Homo sapiens: one gene and its partners. The protein of the gene in region 1 interacts with the protein of each later gene in a pairwise test. Each region holds a gene or a part of one and is shown in the gene's direction. Other genes may lie near its edges.

Region 1 (5,461 bases):
GGGGAGCATGCCGAGGGCTTCCACAATTAGCAGGTTTTGGTTAATCTGGAAGGGAGGGGCAGAGAGCATTCTAGTGGGGGCTTCTCCTGAGGCCTCAGTCTCCACCCCTGAGTTGCCTTTGGGTGGCCAGGCCCGGCTTCAAAGGGGCTGCGATGACCCATGGCTACTTTATCCCGTCTTCCCTGGTCAGGTTTCAGGACCCCATTTAACAAATGGGGGAGTATTTAGCCCATGCCAAGCTCCCAAGGCGTGGGGCGCTCCTGGAGTTCAAGATCTAGCAGCTGCTAGTAGGCCCTGAACTATGGGGGCTGGATATCCACCCAGGACATGATCAGGTGGAGCTTCCTGGAGGAGAAGGCCATGAAGCCCGCACCCTAGGAACAAGAGGGGGACACATTGACTCAACTGATTTCCTGGGAGTTGCTTCAGGAGCCCAGGTGGACCGCTCACCTCCTCCTCCCTAGCCATCTCTGCTCCTCCACCCAAGCAAGGCTGGTATTGTGTATCCTGCCCCAAAGCCCAGGTTCTCCTCCCTCACAAGGGGCAAGTTTGCCCAAGAGGATAGCAGCTCTGGGAATTAGCAGCGGTGGTTGGTGCTGGCACCAGGCCAAGGGCCCCCAGACACACGGGGGCCCAGGGATATGCTTTTGCCCTTCACTCTGAGAATTCAGCTTTTCTTGTGCAGCCTCCACCATGATAACCTCAAAGGGCTGAAAATCTGCAGCATACGGTGGGGTCCAGCACACCCTGAGGTGTGGAGGGGAGGGACAGGCAGCAAGTGTCCAGGAGGAGGAGGCCTGGGCCGCAAGGGGCCTTGTATGTGGGGTACCACACTGCTCCTGCCCCCCACACCCCCGGTCGGGTGGTGCCCCTTTTCCTTCTATCTCTGACTCTCCCCTCAGACGCCACGTGGTTTCCCTCAGGACTCCTGCCACCACCTCTCTGCTGTGTTCCCTAGGTTATGGCTGCACAATCCTGTGCCTCATGAGGCTAATACTTGTGGCCACTTCACCCCATTCGGTCAGCAAGGCGTCGTTCTTTCCTACAAGTGTTTGTTGTTGTTGTTGTTTTGAGACAAGGTCTCACTCTGTTGCCCAGGCTGGAGTGCAGTGGTGCGATCTGGGCCCCGTGCAGCCTCCACCTCCCCCGCTAGGGCGATCCTCCCGACTCAGCGTCCCGGGACTACAGGCGTGCGCCACAGAGCCCAGCTAATTTCTTAATTTTTGGTAGGGACCGGGCCTGCCTATGTTGCTCAGGTTGGTCTCCCGGGCTCAAGTGACCCACTGGCCTCGGCCTCCTCCCAAAGTGCTGGGATCACAGACGTGAGCCACCGGGCCGGGCCTTTCCCATAATTTTTTTTTTTTTTTTGAGACGGAGTCTCACTCTGCCGCCCAGGCTGGAGTGCAGTGGCGTGATCTCGGCTCACTGCAAGCTCCGCTTCCCGGGTTCATGCCATTCTCCTGCCTCAGCCTCCCGAGTAGCTGGGACTACAGGCGCCCACCACCACGCCCGGCTAATTTTTTTGTATTTTTAGTGGAGACGGGGTTTCATCAGGTTAGCTAGGATGGTCTCGATTTCCTGACCTCGTGATCTGCCCGCCTCGGCCTCCCAAAGTGCTGGGATTACAGGCGTGAGACACCGCGCCCGGTCTCCCGTAAGTTTTAAGGCACCCCCCTCTCCACTGGCGCTTCCTTGGTGGGGCGCTGGAGGCTCCCCAAGTTCTGACCGCTCTTCTCCGACCGCACTGTCCTGGGCCCGAAACCACCCCCAAAGCTGCCACCCATTCCGCTGGCGCCCGTCCCGTTGCCCGCGATGACTCGGTTTTGTCCAGCATAAATCAATGACCACCGTCCCGGGAGCCTTGGAGCACTTTGAGCCATTCCCGTCCCACCCACGCCCCAAGGAGGTCCCAGCCGCGGAGGACTCGCCCGGCCGCCCGCAGCTGTCCGCGTTGGCCCCCACCCCCGACCGTCCCTCCCCAGGCCCCGCCCCCGACATTTCCTCCTCCCAGGCTCCGCCCCCGGCTCCCACGGGGCACCGCGGCTTCCGGCTATGGGTACCGCGGGCCGGAAGTGTAGCGTTGCCATGGCGAGGGCCGGGTGCGGGGCCCGCCCCCGCAGCGCCTCAGGGAGCGCGGGGCCCACTGACCCGCGGAAGCCAGCGGACCCACTTGTGCGGCGGTCGGCGCGGGGCGCGAGGTGAGGCGCGGACTCCCGGGTCCTGCGGCGGGAGCGGAGCGAGGGAGAGGGGCCCCGGCCAGGGAGAGCAGTGGCGGGCCCGGGAAGGAGGGGCACTGGGTCGACACCGAGAGAGGAGGCCGGGCCGGGGAAGGATGAGGCAGAGGAGAGGGAGGAGGCCGGGAAGGGCGGGAGGAGGAGGAGACCGAAGGGAGAGAGGAGGCTGGCGACGGAGGAGGCCGGGGAGGGGCCCTCGGGAGACGCGGCTGCCGGCACGCGGGCGCCCAGGGCACAGGTCCCGCCGGGCCGCCTTGGGCGTTGCTGGCTGAGGCCCAGGGCAGCAGGTGCCAACGGTCAGGAAAGGCAGGGAGCCGAAGGCTGCCGGTGGGCGCTTCGCGTTTTGTTCCAAGGCGAAGGTGTGTGGATTCTCCGCAGCCCGTCGGTCAGGTAGACAGCTCCGGAATTGTCTTCATTTTCAGATGAGGAAATCGAGGCCGCAGAGAAGGGACTTACCCAAACTTAAGCTTTGTGTGGGCCTTGGAGCTAGGCTGAAGGAGAAAGTGGAGTCTCACTGGGGCAAGTTCCTTCAACTTTCAGGGATTCAAATGACCTCACTTGTAGTGCGGGGCGTCCGGACCACCCCTCAGGAATTGGGATCAGGGCAAGAATTACTAACTAAGCAAGCACCCCGCCTGGGAGGGAGCGTCCAGGACTGGTGTGGGCCCCTGTCTGTACCAGAGCGGAGGCCCGGGGCACGGTGGGATTAATTTCCATGGGTGCAGAGAGGGGAGCCGTGTACGGAGTCATTCTAGGCTTAGGGGAGACAGAGCAAAGTTAGCCTTCCCCAAACCTCTGTGCCTTCCTTTTCTTCCTGGATTCCTACCTGGGGGTGGAGGTGGAGGCGGGGGTACCGCTGCCTTTCTCAAAGTGTGTCTAGTCCAGCAGTGAGCCCTCCTGGGCGTCTTGGCGCCCCAGTTGCTTCCTGGACGTATTGGGGTTTCTCTGGGAGAAGGGTCTTGCCTGCAGTACCCTGGGCCTCCTGAAGAGGCCTCTGGTTGCGCTGCCTGATTCAGGGACCCAGAGCCACGACTCGCCGAGAGGAGCTCCGGCGGCGTGCGGCTGGGTTGCCTGAGGGGCTGGGGGCTGCCTGGTGGACTTGCACACATGCTGGCTCCATACCTGTCACTGTGGTGGACGCTCAGAGCTCTACAGGGCCAGCTGCCTGCCCCTGCCCCAAGTCCCCCGGGCTGGGGTTGGGATGGGGGTGGCTTTAGGGGGTCCTTCCCCCTCCTGGTGCTCGAGCTGGATTTCCTCCCTGTTGGCTGGGGCCATCCCTCGTGTCTCTGATTGGCCTGTCCTGGCCTCATCCCTCACCTGCTTGGGATGCACTTGGACTCTGCTTTGCCCCGAGGGTTGCCTGGGCTGGCACCTAGCAAGGGGGCTCCTCCTGTATGACTGTACTTTGGGGTCTGTGTTCTAGGGATTCTTGAACCTCTGGTCTGAATGAACAGCCGATTGATACAGCTCTCCACTGCATGCAGCTTAGGAACCTCAGTCTCAGGTGACCCCACAGACTACCAGCACCCCCAGCTCCACCCTTGCTCTTCCCCGAGCGTGTCCTAACCCTAGCACTTGTGCCACATCTATCCATTGGCCAAAATGAGAACTGGGTGGCAGTTCCAGGCCCTTCTTTCATGCCGAGGCTCTCCTGGCACTGGTGCACGCACACCTAAAGGGAGGCCTTTTCATCAGACTTGCTCAGCCAGGAGCTCAGAGCCTTCCATGTCACATCCTGTGCTGGGACCCCTGTGCCAGAGGCTCAGCAGCTGTTCACTTGTTCAGCTCACTGCACTTACTGAGTGCTGCCTATGAGTCAGGAACTGGCCAAGTTCTTAGGATGCAACAGGGAAACAAACAGTAACTGGCATGTCAAGAATTAAAACAAGGTGATGAGATAAGAGAATGACAAGGTAACCACAGAAGATCTCTGAGGAGGTTGCACTTAAGATGTGATCCGAGTCCCACAAAGGAGCATGCTGTCCTAAGATCCGGTGGAAGAACTTTCCAGACAGAAGGAGCAGCTGATGAAGGTGGCGGTGATGATGAAGCTGGTAGCACCAAATAAATGTGCTAGACCAGGGGTTGGCCAGCTTTTACTGTGAAGGGCTAGGCAGCAAACATTTTAGGCTTTGCTGACCATGTGGCTTTCTGTTTTTTTGTTTGTTTGAGATGGAGTCTCACTCTGTCGCCCAGACTGGAGTGCGGTTGCACAATCTCCACTCACTGCAACCTCTGCCTCCCGCGTTCAAATGATTTTCCTGCCTCAGCCTCCCCAGTAGCTGGGATTACAGGCACATGCTACCATGCCAGTTAATTTTTATATCTTTTTTTTTTTTTTTGAGACAGAGTCTTGCTCTGTAGCCAGGCTGCAGTGCAGTGGTGCAATCTCAGCTCACTGCAACCTCCGTCTCTCGAATTCAAGTGATTCTCCTGCCTCAGCCTCCCAAGTAGCTGGGACTACAGGCGCATGCCACCACGGCCAGTAATTTTTGTACTTTTAGTAGAGATGGGATTTCACCGTGTTGGCCAGAATGGTCTCGAACTCCTGACCTCATTATCCTCCTGCCTTGGCCTCCCGAAGTGCGGGGATTACAGGCGTGAGCCACTGTGCCCAGCCCATGCTTTGATTTTTTACATCAAACTTTATTGAGGTGTAACTTACAGTAAGATGCACCTATTTTAATGGGTTTTGTGTGATGGGTTTTGTTTAATGGGTTTTGTTTGATGGGTTTTTTTTTTTGACGGAGTCTCATGCTGTGTCGCCCAGGCTGGAGTGCAGTGGCACGATCTTGGCTCACTGCAAGCTCCGCCTCCTGGGTTCACACCATTCTCCTGCCTCAGCCTCCCAAGTAGCTGGGACTACAGGCGCCCACCACCACGCCCGGCTAATTTTTTGTATTTTTTTAGTAGAGTCGGGGTTTCACCATGTTAGCCAGGATGGTCTCGATCTCCTGACCTCGTGATCCGCCCGCCTCGGCCTCCCAAAGTGCTGGGATTACAGGCGTGACCACCGCGCCCGGCCTGTTTGATGGGTTTTGTGAACAACGTCATAATCCAAATATAAAACATTTCCGTTGCCCCCAAAAGTTCTCTCGTGCTCCTCTGTGGTAAGCCCTTCCTCACACCCAGCCCAGGCAATAGTGATCGCTTTCTATTACTGTAGGTTTGGCGTCCCTTTTTAAGAATTTCACATTGGCTGGGCGTGGGGGCTCACGCCTGTAATC
Region 2 (4,709 bases), on another chromosome or scaffold:
TTTGCACTTCTTTCTGAAGGTCTTTCTGATGAGTTTTCCCTGGCATTTGCCCTCATTCTAGTAAAATGAGGACAGTGGTGGTCATTCCTTTTTCATTCAATGCTCATTCAGAAACTTGATAAGAAGTATTTTACATATATTCTCATTTAATTCTCACAGTTCTATGAGGTAGCTACCCTAATTATCTCCTTTTTATAGTTGAGGAAATTGAGGTACAGAGAGATTAAGAAACTTGCCTAAGGTCACTGAGTTAGTAAGGGGTGGAGCTGGAATTTGAATCTGTGTGCTTCATTCCAAAGCCCACTCTCTTAACCATAATGCTGTGGAGTCCGAGACAGACTAGTACGATCAGCCCAGTAAGGATGGTGTGTGAATACGTGTCCTTAATCTAAGTACTGCTGTAGTCCAGAGAGAGGAGAAGGGAGAAGTTAGTCACTGGGCGAGGCAATTGGAGCATGTACACTTAGGACTAGGACTTGTCCCATGGGTAGATGTGTGGCCAATGAAGAAGAGTGGGTAGAGATATTCCAGGCAGGTGAGCTTGTGGGGGAGAGGTGAGGTCATGTGGGAGAGAAGATCGAGTCTATGGAAGGAGATTTTAGAATCACTGAACTTCTTTTATTTTGGTGTCTCCTAGATAGTTTTGTGCCAGAATAATATCCATAATCAGGCCCATATGAACAGAGTGGTCACACACGAGCTTATTCATGCATTTGATCATTGTCGTGCCCATGTCGACTGGTTCACCAACATCAGACATTTGGCGTGCTCAGAGGTGAGTTTTATTGTATTTTTCTCCAGAATACTCTATGCTTGAATATTTTATTCAAGTGTAATTTATTTAAATGTATTCCTTTTCTTACTGTCATAGTTCTACCTTAGTCTTGAATTTCGGTTTATAACTAACATTGAATACCATTTTTGATATACAGTTAGAGAAATTTAAAGTGTATTTTTAGAATTCTCTTAACTATATCCTGTAAGTCCTAGTAATAGTGATGACTGACTTTAATAAGCTATTAATTTTTTCCTATGGAATATATTTTATAATGTATTCCATAGGAGACATTAATAATAAAAATAAAAATAAAAAAATAATTAAAATTTACTGAGGGCTGTGTTCCAAACACTGTTCTGTTTGCACAGATTCTTATTTAATCTTCACAATAACCTACTGAGATAGATATTATACTATTATTGTCCCTGTTTTACATATGTGGAAAGTGAGACAGTTGTTTAGATTCCAAAGTTAGTAAGTGGTAGAGGCAGGATTACAACTAGTGTTTTTAACTAGCTTGCCCAGCTGCCTTCCATAGAGCTCCTTGCTTGCCCTAGAGTAAAACATGCTCTTTTCAAAAATACAACATAAAAAGATATTTATTACTAAGCACGTTGGATTGCTCTTGGAATATGCTCCTAGAGAGAGCGTATTCTGCATATGCATATACTTGGATGTCATTAATTGAAGAGTTAATTAAAATAATCTAAATCTCAAGCCTATACTATATAACTTCGATTATTTCCCTTTCTCTTGAAATTAATATGTAGCCCCCTGCATCTAATTATAATTCCAATTATTTGGAGAATAGACTGAAACCTGAATTTTTAAATAGGTCTCTTTCTTGGGTACTGTGAGAATTAATGCCTTTTAGCTAGTTAAAGTGTGTTAAGTACTTTGAGCTCCTCAGAGGAATGAGGCCATAATATTGAAGAAGGAACAAGAAGTGGGCCATTCTGTTAGCAATGAATTAGCAAAAATGTGGTCAAGCTGCCTGTAGAATCTATGTGGGTAGTTCTAAGACTTTTTCATTCATTGAAGTATAGTAAATCTGAAAATATGTCCTAATTTCAGGCTGTCATGCTCATAGCGTGACCAGTTTGGAATGTTCTTGATTCTTTGTGTTTTGTATTGCTTCATTTTTCATAGGACAATCAAGTCCCTAGAGGAAGGTCATGAACTTATATAGGTTTGAGGGAAGCTCCAAGGGAGATTCGGGCAAGGGTTGGGAGGGGCATATTCTCAAAGTGTCTCAGATATTAATGCATTCAGTTTTAAGGTCACATTGAAACTCAGTTTATTTCAAGAATGCTTTCTTGAAGTACTTTTGGCAATTTCTACAAGTATTTGTATCTTGTAGAGTGTGTAGTTTAACTCTGAGGTCTAGCTCTCTGACTTTTGGTTCCAAAAGAAATTAGTTCTGTCAGTAAAGCTACGCATAAAGTTTAGAAAATTTCCTTTGGTAGGCGATTGAACTTTTCCCCATCTCTCCAGTGTATTTGGCATTGTCTAGCATAGCTCATAGATATTTGCTCTCGTTGTCAATAGAGTTTAAAAAGTCCTTTAAGAAGAAGTGTCACAAATACTCTTTTCTCAGACAAAGATGCTAATTTTATATTCTTTTCTAATTTTTAAAAATTGGTTGATATCATAAAGATATATAGAGCATGAGCGTTTATTTCTTTTTATTTGTCTTCTGTGTGATAGGTTCGAGCTGCTAACCTTAGTGGAGACTGCTCACTTGTCAATGAAATATTCAGGTTACATTTTGGATTAAAACAACACCACCAGGTAAAAACTAATATGAAATCACTTCCCCTCCAGAGTGTTACGAGTGGAAATAATGAATAAAGAAATGAAAAGTACATTCAGTATTTGAAATTTGAAAGAACTTCGTATGTGAAAAGAATACAAAGTATGTACCATTTAAACAAAGTAGATGGAATTTAGTTCTACTTTGTAATTATGGGCAAGCTATGTGACTCAATGAGTGTGTGAGATAGTCTAATAATGAAAAGAGGCCTGGTGCGGTGGCTTATGCCTCCCAGCAGTTTGGGAGGCCGAGGCGGGCGGATCACGAGGTCAGGAGATCGAGACCAGCGTGGCCAACATGGTGAAACCCCGTGTCTACTAAAAATACAAAAAAATTAGCTGGGCGTAGTGGAGCACACCTGTAGTCCCAACTACTATGGAGGCTGAGGCAGGAGAATCACTTGAATCTGGGAGATGGAGGTTGCAGTGAGCCGAGATCATGCCACTGCACTCCAGTCTGGGCCACAGAGTGAGACTCCATCTCAAAAAAAAAAAAAAAAAAAAAGGAGCTAAGATCTTGCATCTGGGATACTTTTCGATGGGGGTGGATAAGGAATGGAAGTGAAATCACAGCATGTCTTACTGTTATTCTAACAATTCTTGACTTCTATTTTGAATCTACCATAGCATTCTGGAGACAAAAGATGTAATCCCTTTCAGAACAGAGAGTGTGTTGCTGCACAAGTTATGGCTATGTGTCAGTGTACCTGTAAAGGCTATATAATGTGATAGAAAACCTTTGGCTTAGCACAGACTTGAGTATGATGAGCTTAGCTGAGAGGGATTTGTGTGAACAAAACAAAAACAAAAAACAAAAGAGAGCTATAAGGCAAGATTATCCTGGTAGAAAGGCTTTGAGATCTGTATTAGGTGGACGTGGGGAAAGAAAGTATAGGACTCATGGATTGATAATGAATGTGAGCAGTTCTGCCTGGGCCTGTGTCCACATTTAGGAGAAAGGCTGGTCAGTCATTTTCTACAGTAAGAGCCTGCTGAGTCAGTTTGTGAAGTATATGAGCATCACGATATCAGTTCCAACTAGATGAAAAAAGATAGGCTTAGGACAACAGGAAGGCCCTTGGTTTTCTGGAGAAGAGAGTAACTCAACTCTGGAGTGGGGGGTGGAAAGTCACAGTGAGCTACTCAGAAATTGTGAACTTAGTGAATGGGAGGGAGAAGAAAAGCCTTCTGCCTGGAAAGGGTGATTACTCTAGACAGTGAGGTGTTCAGCCTCTGCCAGGTCAGCTTAGTGATATGCCAGTGACTTGTCTTGTGCTGCATGTTTTCTGTGCCCTTGAGTCCCTGCTTCTCTGGTGAATTCTGTGTGTTCTGGCTGTCAGTGGAGAGGGTGGAAGCAGGGTACACATCAGCACGCCCCTAGAGAAGAGAATAATGTGGTTAAAGCATGTGCTGGCATAGCTTATGGATATCTGCTCTTGTCAATAGAGTTTGAAAAATTCCTTAAAAAAAAAAACTATTACATATACTCTGTTTTTAGAAAAATATGCTAATTTTATATTCTTTTCCAATTAAAAAAAAATCAGTTGATATACTAAAGAAATAGAGCATGTTTTTTTTTTTTTTAATTCACCTTCTATCTTTGTGATAGGTTTGTGATGCACACAATCTTTGAAAGAGGAAGTTTTCCTCTTTTTACCATTGGGTAGCAGCAGCAGAAAACAAATAGAAACAGCAATAGGACAGAAAATAAGTGGAGGTAGTAGGAATCTGGCTGAGGGAGAAGAGTCTTAGAGAATGGAGTCCCTGCTTTTGTACAGCATGTACCCAGGAAATAGAAACAGCAAGTACAGTTACTGATTGTAAAATTGCATAGTCATATCTTTATTTTAACAGAAATTTATTATGTCTGAAAAGAAGTAAATCTGTGGTCTACACTTGTGTCTCCCAACCCTGTGGCTTCAGGAGACAAATTTTTGTACCTTTTTTCCCTGGAGGGGAGAAATTTCCTCTCTTTTTAGCAACTGTTGTTTTGGCTTCACATGGTTCTTCCTTTTCTTGTTCCTTTATGCCTGGGGTTTATTTTTTAAAATCAGCGTTTAGTAAAATTCAGGTTGAGAAACACTATATTCCAATGTTAGTGAATATCTCCAGCTTGAGC
Region 3 (4,709 bases), on another chromosome or scaffold:
AAACCAGATAAAAACAGTTCTTCCGAGCAGTTGTTTTCTAGCGCACGCTTACAGAATGAGAAAAAAACAATTCTTGAAAGAAAGAAAGACTGTAGACAGGTGATACAAAGGGAAGATTCTACCTCTGAGTCTGAGGATGACTCTCGGGATGAGAGCCAGGAGAGTTCAGATGCTTTGCTGAAAAGGACCATGAACATCAAGGAGAACAAAGCCATGGTGAGGCTTCACGGAGGGCGTCCTGGGAGTTGGCACCAGGCTCTGGCAGCAGTTGCTGGGCTCCCAGAACCACTTTGCTCCTACAGCTGCTGCTGTTGCTTTGGCTTCTGTCAAGAAAATATACTCTGGGTATTGTGTATCCTTTTACTTTTCCAGAACCCAGAGCAACTATTACATGATCAGCTCTGGTTTGGGAACAGAAAGAGATTCCCCAGCACCATTTTTAGCCCCTACATGGTGCCATAATGCTGCTTACTGTTGACCAAGCTAAGTTCTAAGTATATAGTTGTGTTGGGGATGAGAGGGGCTGAACAACTAGCCCGTTCCCAGCAGAGTAAAGCAGGGGAAGTGGGATGTCACCAAGTCCACTGAGAAGTTGCAAGGAGCAGGTTGGGCAGGTAGCTTTTCACCACAGAACCACTCTTCTATGGTGACCAGCACTGGTTCTGAGACTTCTGAAGGAATGGAAGAGGTCTAGGAATTAAAACAACCTCAACAGTGTTAATTCACTCTACATTGTCTTCATTAGAACAATGAATGGAACCAGGTGAAATCTTTGTTACATATATTTGGTTTTTCTGTATATAATCAATTACTGTTAATCTGATCATTGTAGAGAATCATTGTTTGCTTCATAATTGTTTATCTACAGTTTTTTTTTAAATAGTTCTACCACTTATCCCTTTTAGCATTTTGGTAATTTTTTAATCTTTTCCTTTTAAAAAAAGAATGATGCAGTGATACTGTATATGCAAGCTTATATGTCTAATATAAATTACTTACAAAAATGGAATGCCTACTTTCGGATTATTTTTATCCTAAGAAACATTTTTACTTAGCTAAGGGAAATTTTCAGCACTGTATCCATCTGCATCTTTAAAATAAGCTATTTTCTTTATGATTTTTTTGGTGGCACTCATATAATTGTATAAACTAAAACGAATCCTAATTAAATTCTCTGGCATATTAATGCCTATTATTTGGTATTATTAGTTCACGTAGGAATATCTTCATAGATTACTTTGATTGATGAGAAATTAATCTATTTAAAGAATCAGACTTTTGGAGTTCTAAATAACCATCGAAATAATCTAGTTGAGCTTTTTCTTTTTTGAACATCCTGAAACTTGAGACTCACGTGTGCAAAATGAATTGTCCCAGGGTCACACCGCCTTGGATTAGCCTCCGAGTCGGGATCGGAACCTCATGCTCCAGGTCTTGATCATTCCAGGACTGTTTTCATAGTGTTGTGTTGTCCTTATATATAAGGAATAGGCTAGTGTTCATTCATATGAATGATGACATCAGCATCTCAGGTCTGGAGGTACAATCTTTACATGTGAGGTTAAAAGTATAACTGTTGTGGGTTATATAAACTATTCAAGTTAGGTTTCTTATGGTGGCAAAATGGAAGACTTGAGATAGGTGTTGGATGACCTAAACCTGGAGCCCTATTTTTGTAAGATTCTTTCTTTTGTTCTGAACTTCAGCTTGCCCAGTTATTGGCGGAATTGAACTCGATGCCAGATTTCTTCCCAGTACGAACCCCAACCTCAGCTTCTGTAAGTAGAACTCCTTATAATTATACCAATACTGATATATGGTGATCAGCCACCAGACGGCTTTTATTCGAGAGAGTCCCCAGTTGTCTCTGTCTGTGCTCTTGATTTCAGAGGAAGAAGACAGTGAGGCGGGCCTTCTCGGAGGGACAGATCACGCGGCGTATGAACCCAACCCGGAGTGCGCGGCCTCCTGAGAAGTTTGCTCTAGAGAACTTCACTGTCTCAGCCGCTAAATTTGCGGAAGAGTTTTACAGCTTCCGAAGAAGGAAGACAATTGGGGTATTTTCTGACTAATACATGAATTAGTTTTTGTCTGAGCTACCATCCCTCCAAACGTGAACGCACGTCACTGTCACCCCAGGGCTGGTTCTGACCCCGTGGGTCTGCGGCAGCTGAGAACTTGCATTTCTCTCTGCTTCCCAGGTGATGCCATTGCTCCTGAGATCACACTTTGAGAAGCAGCCCTGGTCTAAGCTGGAGGTCACAGAGAGAGTCTTTTATCCAAGCCGAGCTGAGAAGCAGCTCATTTGTTAGGACCCTGCTTTAATCTCTGCTGCAGGCAATAAAGAAAAGTGCAGTGATTCCTCCTTGCCTTTCTGTTTTAGGCATGAGGCGTTTCAAGCGCTTTCAGTTTGGAGGGAGCAACTGTGGACCCATTTGTGGGTTTGGCTGTTCAGTGTGGTTCACCTCTCCACAGAGTTTACAGCAAAGAACCAAAAACCTTGAGTTCCTCCTTTATGATTGTATCGCCTTGCTGAGAAGGAAGCTTGGCAGGTGGCAGGAGCTCAGTAAATAACTAAATGAAATGGCTGCAGGGAAATAGAAGAGGGACGGGGTTAACATTAATGGTGCTAGATCTTTGAGAGTTTAAAATATTTATAATTTTTTTATAACTGCTCAACACATCTCCATGTTCTGCTTGTGTTCATTGTGCAGGGGAAATGCCGGGAGTACAGACGACGTCACCGTATATCTTCTTTTCGGCCAGTGGAGGATATCACCGAAGAGGACTTAGAAAATGTTGCCATAACTGTTCGAGATAAAATCTATGATAAAGTTCTGGTAAAGTATACATTAATTGTCATTCTTATTGGGAGTCGAAGGCATTGGTATTGAAATCTCACTTGTTTTTAAACTCTATCAGGGCTTATGCCATCTCACCAAGGGCTCAGAGCCAGGCTCTGAATTGGAGGGTCAAAAGTCAGCTGTACCTGGGAAAGGGGAGGCAGCCTAGTGCAGTAATTCCCATCTGGACGGCGGTCTCTCTTAGGGATGCGTAGAATCTGGGGGAAGGGAACGGTATAGTTTAAAAGGGATTTTTATATGTAACTGTTAATGGTTTAAGCATATAGTTTTATGTTCTAAATATTGAAAAAAGTATATTTGGGGGGTAATATAACCATAGAAATTAAAGTTTGGCAGAATATCTTTGGTAGGAAATGGGTTAAATTTCTTCTAAATGGTGATTTAGAGGGAGGCTTTGCGTTCTGCATTTTTTTTGTGTTTTTCTGGATATGTAACGGGACACTGTCAAGTTTTAAATTTAGTTGCCAATATTTAAAAAAAAATAGATCTCACATTGAAGGTATCCAGGTCTGCAGAGCTAGGCTGGGGCCGAGGTGATGCCACCCAAGGCTCATTGCCCCTCAGTCACCTGTCACCTTTCAGGGGCTCTGCCACCCCTGCCTCAAGCTTTTCTCTGGTCTCTCTTCCTGACAGCCTGATCATTTCATTCCTTCTGGGTCTCTGCTCAGCCTCATCTGACCTAATATGTTTCTCTGGCCACAGACCTGTGATGGTTACATTCTAGAGCAGTGGTCCCCAACCTTTTTGGCACCAGGGACTGGTTTTGTGAAAGACAGTTTTTCCATGGATTTGGGGGGCAGGAAGGGGATGGTTTCAGGATGAAACTGTTCCACCTCAGATCATCGGGCATTAGATTCTTATAAAGGGTGCACAACCTAGATCCCTCACATGTGCAATTCACAATAGAGGGTTTGTGCTCCTATGAGAATCTAATGCTGCTGCTGATCTGACAGGAGGCAGAGCTCAGGCGGTAATGCTCGCCCGTCCGCTGCTCACTTCCTGCTGTGCAGCCCGGTTCCAAACAGGCCACAGACTGGTTCTAGCCTGGGGGCTGGGGACCCCGGTCTAGAGACAATGCTGTGGTTCTTAGGAAAACAGTCCTGCTTGATTCGAGGAGACGGGGGTATTTCTTCATATACTTGGAAATGCACATGGTGGCATCTGGCCTCATTGGGCATCAGCATATCCCTGTGTTCACCTGCTCACTGCCTTCCCCCTGTAGGGTAACACGTGCCATCAGTGTCGACAAAAGACCATCGACACCAAGACAGTGTGTCGGAACCAGGGTTGCTGTGGTGTGCGAGGACAGTTCTGTGGACCATGCCTGCGGAACCGCTATGGGGAGGATGTCAGATCGGCATTGCTGGACCCGGTAGGAACAGTGTTTGCATTTGTTGTAAATTGTATTGGTGAAGGAAGCAAGCTATAAAGATGGGCCTCCTGGGTTCTCACTGGGAACTAGGGAGCTCCAGAACTCTGGTTTTTCCCTTCCATTTGTATCTTAAGGCTCCAGGGAAAATGAAAAATAGGGATTCCTTCTGGAAGGAGAGCAAGCTGACCAGTGAATAGAAGAATTAATGTTGTTAGATTTTCCATTGTCAGAGCAAAACTTGCTTACAGTCCTCTAGTTTTATGCAAGTAATCCCTGTACCTGTCCTTCAGCAAAGTGATTTCCCTCTGATTTGTTTTGTTTTTCCTGGGCCAGGCTGAGAGGGAGGTGGAGATTGCAGTATAGAGTGCTCTCTGTGTGCCTGGCACTGTGCAAGCTGTCGCTCACTCTGTTACCATAAATTTGTTTAATCCCATGAAATAGGTGTATAACCTCTCTCAGCTCCCTCGGTAAAA
Region 4 (5,306 bases), on another chromosome or scaffold:
CACCCAGGCATTTTAAATTAGGAGCCTGCATTAATAATCTTAGAATCCAGAATATGACACCACAAATTTCAGGAGGGGGAATCCTTGCCACATAGTACTTTACAATATCCCAAGAGCTTTCTTCTCATCTCATTCTTTCCCATCTTCAAAACAACTGTCAAATAGGTATCATTTCTTTGTGATCACCAGCATATCTTTGAAGACACTGAGGCTCCAGGTGATAAACTGGGTGAGTGGAGTGCCAGGATGGAGAGTCAAGTCTTTTGTCTCTGAAACCCAGACTTGTTTTATGCCTGGTTCTAGGGATAGCAGGGGACTGCACTCTCCACACCTCTGCCCATAACAGGCATCACTAATCGATCATGGTGTGGCAGACATTGCTAATCAACTGCAGTACTCTTTTTTACTAAGCTCAGAGGTGTCCATGAACTCTTTAAAACAACATTCCAGCCACCATCACCTATCAGAAGATCATATCTGTATTTGCCATTCTTGTGATACCACATCATCAGCCATGAGCCCTCAGGTCTCAGGTACAACTCCAAGATGCTCTAGTCACCAGACCATAGGACTCTACATACTGCATGCATGCTGTTCTTGGACAGGAATTACTGGCCCCTCTGGCCCCCAAACAGATGCCCCATCCAAGTGTCCCTCTTAGAGATACAACAAGCATGCAGGTATGCCCGGGGCTTCAGGGTTTGCTAGGTCTTTATTTTTTAATTTTTAATTAATTAATTTTTTTGAAACAAGGTCTTGCTCTATTGCCCAGGCTGGAGTGCAGTGGCAAGATTATAGCTCACTGCAGCCTTGAACTCCTGGGCTCAAGTGATCCTCTCATCTCAGCCTCCTGAGTAACTGGGAATACAGGTGTGTGCCACCATGCCCAGTTATTTTTTTTATTTTTAATATAGATAAGGTCTTGCTATGTTGCCCAGGCTGGTCTCAAACTCCTGAGCTCAAGTAATCCTCCTGCCTTGGCCTCCCAGAGTACTTGGATTACAGGCATGAACCACTGCATCTGGCCTAACAAAATTGTTTTTATCCCCACTTTACAGATTTGGAAACAGAAACACAGATGAAATTACGAACCCAAGTCACATAGCTTGGAAGCTGGGCTCCTAACCACTGGACATCAATCTTTCCACTGCTTCATGGTCTGTTGTATGAAAACAGTAATGTATCCATCTGTTCTATCCAACAGCCATTGCTTAATTTTGCAGACATGCTTCCATAGTGGTCTCAGAAGGTTTGGGGGTGGTTGTATTATCTGGCTTAGTTCCTGCAATGAGCCTGGGAGTGGGTAGTTGTACCATCCTCCAGATGAGAAAACTAGGGCTCAGAGAAGGAGAGTCACTTTCTGAAAGTTGGACAGCTCCAATGTGTGCTGTGATCCAGAGTTCCCCCAATTCCAGAGCTCAAGGGCTCTCTCTACCCCACATGAGCATCGGTCCCCACTGGCTTCTTCTCTCATCTCAGTCCCTGGCCGCCTGTCCTCCCTCCCCTAGAACACCCTCCTCATACCTGGCCTTTGGTCTTCCCTCCTCTCCACCCTCCACCATCCTCTTTCCAGAGAAGGGGCCCAACCGGAAGGCCAGTTCATGTTAGGAAATTCTAGCCACGTGAGCAAGCCTGAGCCAGGGATTCTGAGCAGCTGGTGGCTTTAGGAGAAACTGAAACTTGGCCCTCTGGGGGCGGAGTGGCCACTGGGGATTTAAAGAGCTGCCACTTCCTTAGGCCTCCAGAGGGCACTGGGAAGTCACAGCTGCTGAGGGACCACTCTGCTCCCCCGCCTAAGCCATGCACCTCTGTGGGGGCAATGGGCTGCTGACCCAGACAGTGAGTACAGGGGATTGGGGATCGGGGATGAGAAGGGGAGCTGGGATCCCGTCCTCAGTGCCCAGGCAGTGAGGGCTGCAGTCGGGAGCTCCTAGTCCCAGCTCTATACTCTGAGCAGTGTGACAGAGGGCTCTGCATGCCCCTCTCTGGGTCTCACTTTCCTCCCCCGAAGTCGGGATTGGATTGGAATGAGTTGTTTCCAGCTCTCACATTGCAGATCCAGCCTTCGGTTTAGAACTTGGCCTCTGTGTACTTGCTCTCTCCTAACGTACCTGGTCCCCCCTCACTACACTCACAGCAGCCTTTCCTTCCTTCTCCAAATAACCCAGGCCGGCTCATGCCTGTAATCCCAGCCCCTTGGGAGTCTGAGGCCGGCAGATAACATGAGGTTAGGAGTTCAAGATCAGCCTGGCCAACATGGCGAAACCCCGTCTCTACTAGAAATACAAAAATTAGCCAGGTGTGGCAGGGCACGTCTGTAGTCTCAGCTACTCGAGAGGCTGAGGCAGGAAAGTTGCTTGAACCCGGGAGATGGAGGTTGCAGTAAGCTGAGCTCATGTCACTGCACTCCAGCCTGGGTGACAGAGAGAGACTCTGTCTCAATAAAATAAAATAGGCCGGGCTCAGTGGCTCACACCTGTAATCCCAGCACTTTGGGAGGCTGAGGCGGGCAGATCACCTGAGGTCAGGAGATCGAGACCATCCTGGCCAACATGGTGAAACCCCGTCTCTATTAAAAATAGAAAAATTAGCTGGGCGTGGTGGAGGCACATGCCTGTAATCCCAGCTTCTCAGGAGGCTGAGGCAGGAGAATCACTTGAACCTGGGAGGCGGAGGTCGCAGTGAGCCAAGATCACGCCACTGCACTCCAGCCTGGGCGACAGAGACTCTGTCTCAATAAAATAAAATAAAATAAAATAAAGTAAAATAATAAATAAATTCCCTGGGCCATGGTTTCCCTTGGAGGCTCTGCTTATCTCACAGGAGCCCCCTTCACTCACCGTGGGTCCTGTCTCAGCCTTTAGTTTCTTGGTGCCCCAGTGTCTACAGTGAGCCCGCTGTGGACATGGCCCAAGGGAGCATATGGAGCAGGAGCCTAGGAGCATTCAGAATCTGCAGCCAGGGCGGCCAGGGCCTTGCCTGAGGTCCTTACCCTCAAAACACATACCCCAGAGAGACTTGGGGGCGGGGGCTGGGCTGTGAGCTCTCCAACAGTCCCTCTTGCTCTGACTTTGCAGAGCTCTGGACATTTGGGTAAAATATTTTATCTAAGTTTCATTGATCCCAGGGTACAAGGTGGTCACAACCTTTGAGTCCACTCTTCCACCGGAATAAACCCTTCATTCATTCATCCTTCGCTACCACCCCACTACAATGTGAGCAATTTCAGGGCAGGGATTTGTGTGTATTTTGTTTGCTATCATGTCCCTCTAGCTTACTGCCTGGAACATAGTAGGTGCTTATACATGTTTGTTGAGTAAGTGAATATCTGCTTTGGGCTTGAGCTGGGCATGAGCACAGAGAACCACATCTGCCCTCATGGAGCTCACAGTTAGGAAAGTTCACACCTTGGTGTGGAAATCATGGCAATGAGAAGAATGGAAGCTGAGCTTTATGGCACGCCGGCTCTGGGCTGCCTGCCGCATGGGCTTTAACCCTCTGCTGTGGTGCTTCCATTGCAGGGATGGGGCGATTGGGTTCAAGAATATGGGGCTCGGCTGGGCACGGTGGCTCACACCTGTAATCCCAGCACTTTGGGAGGCCGAGGCTGGTGAATCACCTGAGGTCAGGAGTTCAAGACCAGTTTGAGATGAGCCTGGCCAACATGAGGAAACCCCATCTCTACTAAAAATACAAAAATTGGCCAGGAATGGTGGCAGGTGCCTGTAGTCCCAGCTACTTGGGAGGCCGAGGCAGGAGAATTGCTTGAACCCGGGAGTCAGAGTTTGCAGTGAGCCAAGATAGAGCCGCTGCACTACTCCAGCCTGGGCAACAGAGTGAGACTCTGTCTCAAAAAAAAAGGAAAAAAGAATGTGGGGTTTGAAGTTGGCTCTGTCTGAGTTTGAATCTCAGGCTTCCCATCTTCCCTGCTTGCCCTCCCACCCTCCACATGAGCGGTGAGCAGGACACAGGGGTGAGGCTGGCGTTCCAACAAGGTGTGCAGTGCCTGCTATAGGGGGTGTGGGTGCCAAGGGAGCTTCTGGGAGATAAAAGACCCTTGGGAACTTGACTCAAGGGGAAAGACTTGGCTTTACAAATGGCGGGCCAGGACGGAGGGCACAAGGCCTGGCTGGGCCCCCTGAGTCCTCTGCCTCATGCCCCACAGGACCCCAAGGAGCAACAAAGGCAGCTGAAGAAGCAGAAGAACCGGGCAGCCGCCCAGCGAAGCCGGCAGAAGCACACAGACAAGGCAGACGCCCTGCACCAGGTGTGGACAACCCCTAACCCCTTTCCTTGTCTCTGGCTCCACTTACTGGCCCAGCCACCTCTTCTCCATCCCACCTTTGAGCAGACCTCCCCCAAACTCCTGTATTTTTCTAGGTCACCTGAGTTTGGGATGAGAAAAGGATCCTGTGGCTGACATTTGGAAAGTTCTGGGTGTTGAGTACAAACCATGTGCCAGGTACACACCAGGCTCCAGGGACACAAAGGGTCATCCTCAGCCCAGCCGTGTCCTAAGGTGTCCGCAGTCTAGGGGAAGGAAGACAGGAAGTGGAGGCAAATAGGGAGACCCCAACACAATGGCCAGCTGAGACACTGGTTAAAATGCAGATTCCAGGCTGGGCACTGTGGCTCACACCTGTAATCCTAGCACTTTGGGAGGCTGAGGCTGGAGGATTGTTTGAGCCCAGGAGTTCAAGACCAGCCTGGGCAATATAGTGAGACTCTGTCTCTACAAAAATTAAAAAATAGTTAGCTGGGCGTGATGGTGCACACCTGTAGTCCCAGCTACTCAGGAAACTGAGGCAGGAGGATCGCTTGAGCCCAGAAGTTCAAGGCTGCAGTGAGCCATGATTGTACCACTGCATCCAACCTGGGCAACAGATTGAGACCCTGTCTATAGAAAAAAAAAAGTGGATTATTCTTCCTCTGCCAGGTCCCACCTCATGAGGCCAGGTGGGCCCAGGGACCTGCACGGTGATTTGTGATTAATCACCTGGGGGTCAGAATTCAGGAGGTGACCAAGACCATACTGTGAGAACTCTGGTTCAGGGTTAAAATGGGCAGGGTTTCCAGTCCCAGTTGCAAGTTGCTTCCTTTACTGAGCTTCATGCTCATCTGAAAATACCATAAACAGTGGCTTAAACAATAGACATTTATTTCTCACAGTTTTGGAGGCTGGGAAGTCCAAGATCAAGGTGCCAGCCAATTCAGTTCCAGATGAGGGTGCTCTTCCTGACTTGTAAGTGGCTGCCTTCTCGCTGTGTGCTCATGGCCTCTCAGTGCATGTGAGAGGACAGAGTGAT

What was found.
Region 2: the proteins of PPP1R16A (region 1) and ATP23 interact in binary tests that used the Homo sapiens proteins (3 or more experiments, as listed by UniProt).
Region 3: the proteins of PPP1R16A (region 1) and CDCA7L interact in binary tests that used the Homo sapiens proteins (3 or more experiments, as listed by UniProt).
Region 4: the proteins of PPP1R16A (region 1) and BATF2 interact in binary tests that used the Homo sapiens proteins (3 or more experiments, as listed by UniProt).

What each region holds. Positions count from the first base shown.
Region 1 is NC_000008.11:144,475,930-144,481,390, forward strand, and holds the start of PPP1R16A (protein phosphatase 1 regulatory subunit 16A), read left to right. Parts: upstream 1-2,052; 5' UTR 2,053-2,198; intron 2,199-2,421; exon of another isoform or gene 2,422-2,624; intron 2,625-2,656; exon of another isoform or gene 2,657-2,753; intron 2,754-5,461. UniProt on the Homo sapiens protein: Inhibits protein phosphatase 1 activity toward phosphorylase, myosin light chain and myosin substrates.
Region 2 is NC_000012.12:57,951,121-57,955,829, forward strand, and holds part of ATP23 (mitochondrial inner membrane protease ATP23 homolog), read left to right. Parts: intron 1-637; coding exon 638-775; intron 776-2,485; coding exon 2,486-2,569; intron 2,570-4,709.
Region 3 is NC_000007.14:21,903,637-21,908,345, reverse strand, and holds part of CDCA7L (cell division cycle-associated 7-like protein), read left to right. Parts: coding exon 1-216; intron 217-1,706; coding exon 1,707-1,778; intron 1,779-1,889; coding exon 1,890-2,057; intron 2,058-2,714; coding exon 2,715-2,840; intron 2,841-4,086; coding exon 4,087-4,236; intron 4,237-4,709. UniProt on the Homo sapiens protein: Plays a role in transcriptional regulation as a repressor that inhibits monoamine oxidase A (MAOA) activity and gene expression by binding to the promoter.
Region 4 is NC_000011.10:64,993,409-64,998,714, reverse strand, and holds the start of BATF2 (basic leucine zipper transcriptional factor ATF-like 2), read left to right. Parts: upstream 1-1,743; 5' UTR 1,744-1,800; coding exon 1,801-1,839; intron 1,840-4,165; coding exon 4,166-4,267; intron 4,268-5,306.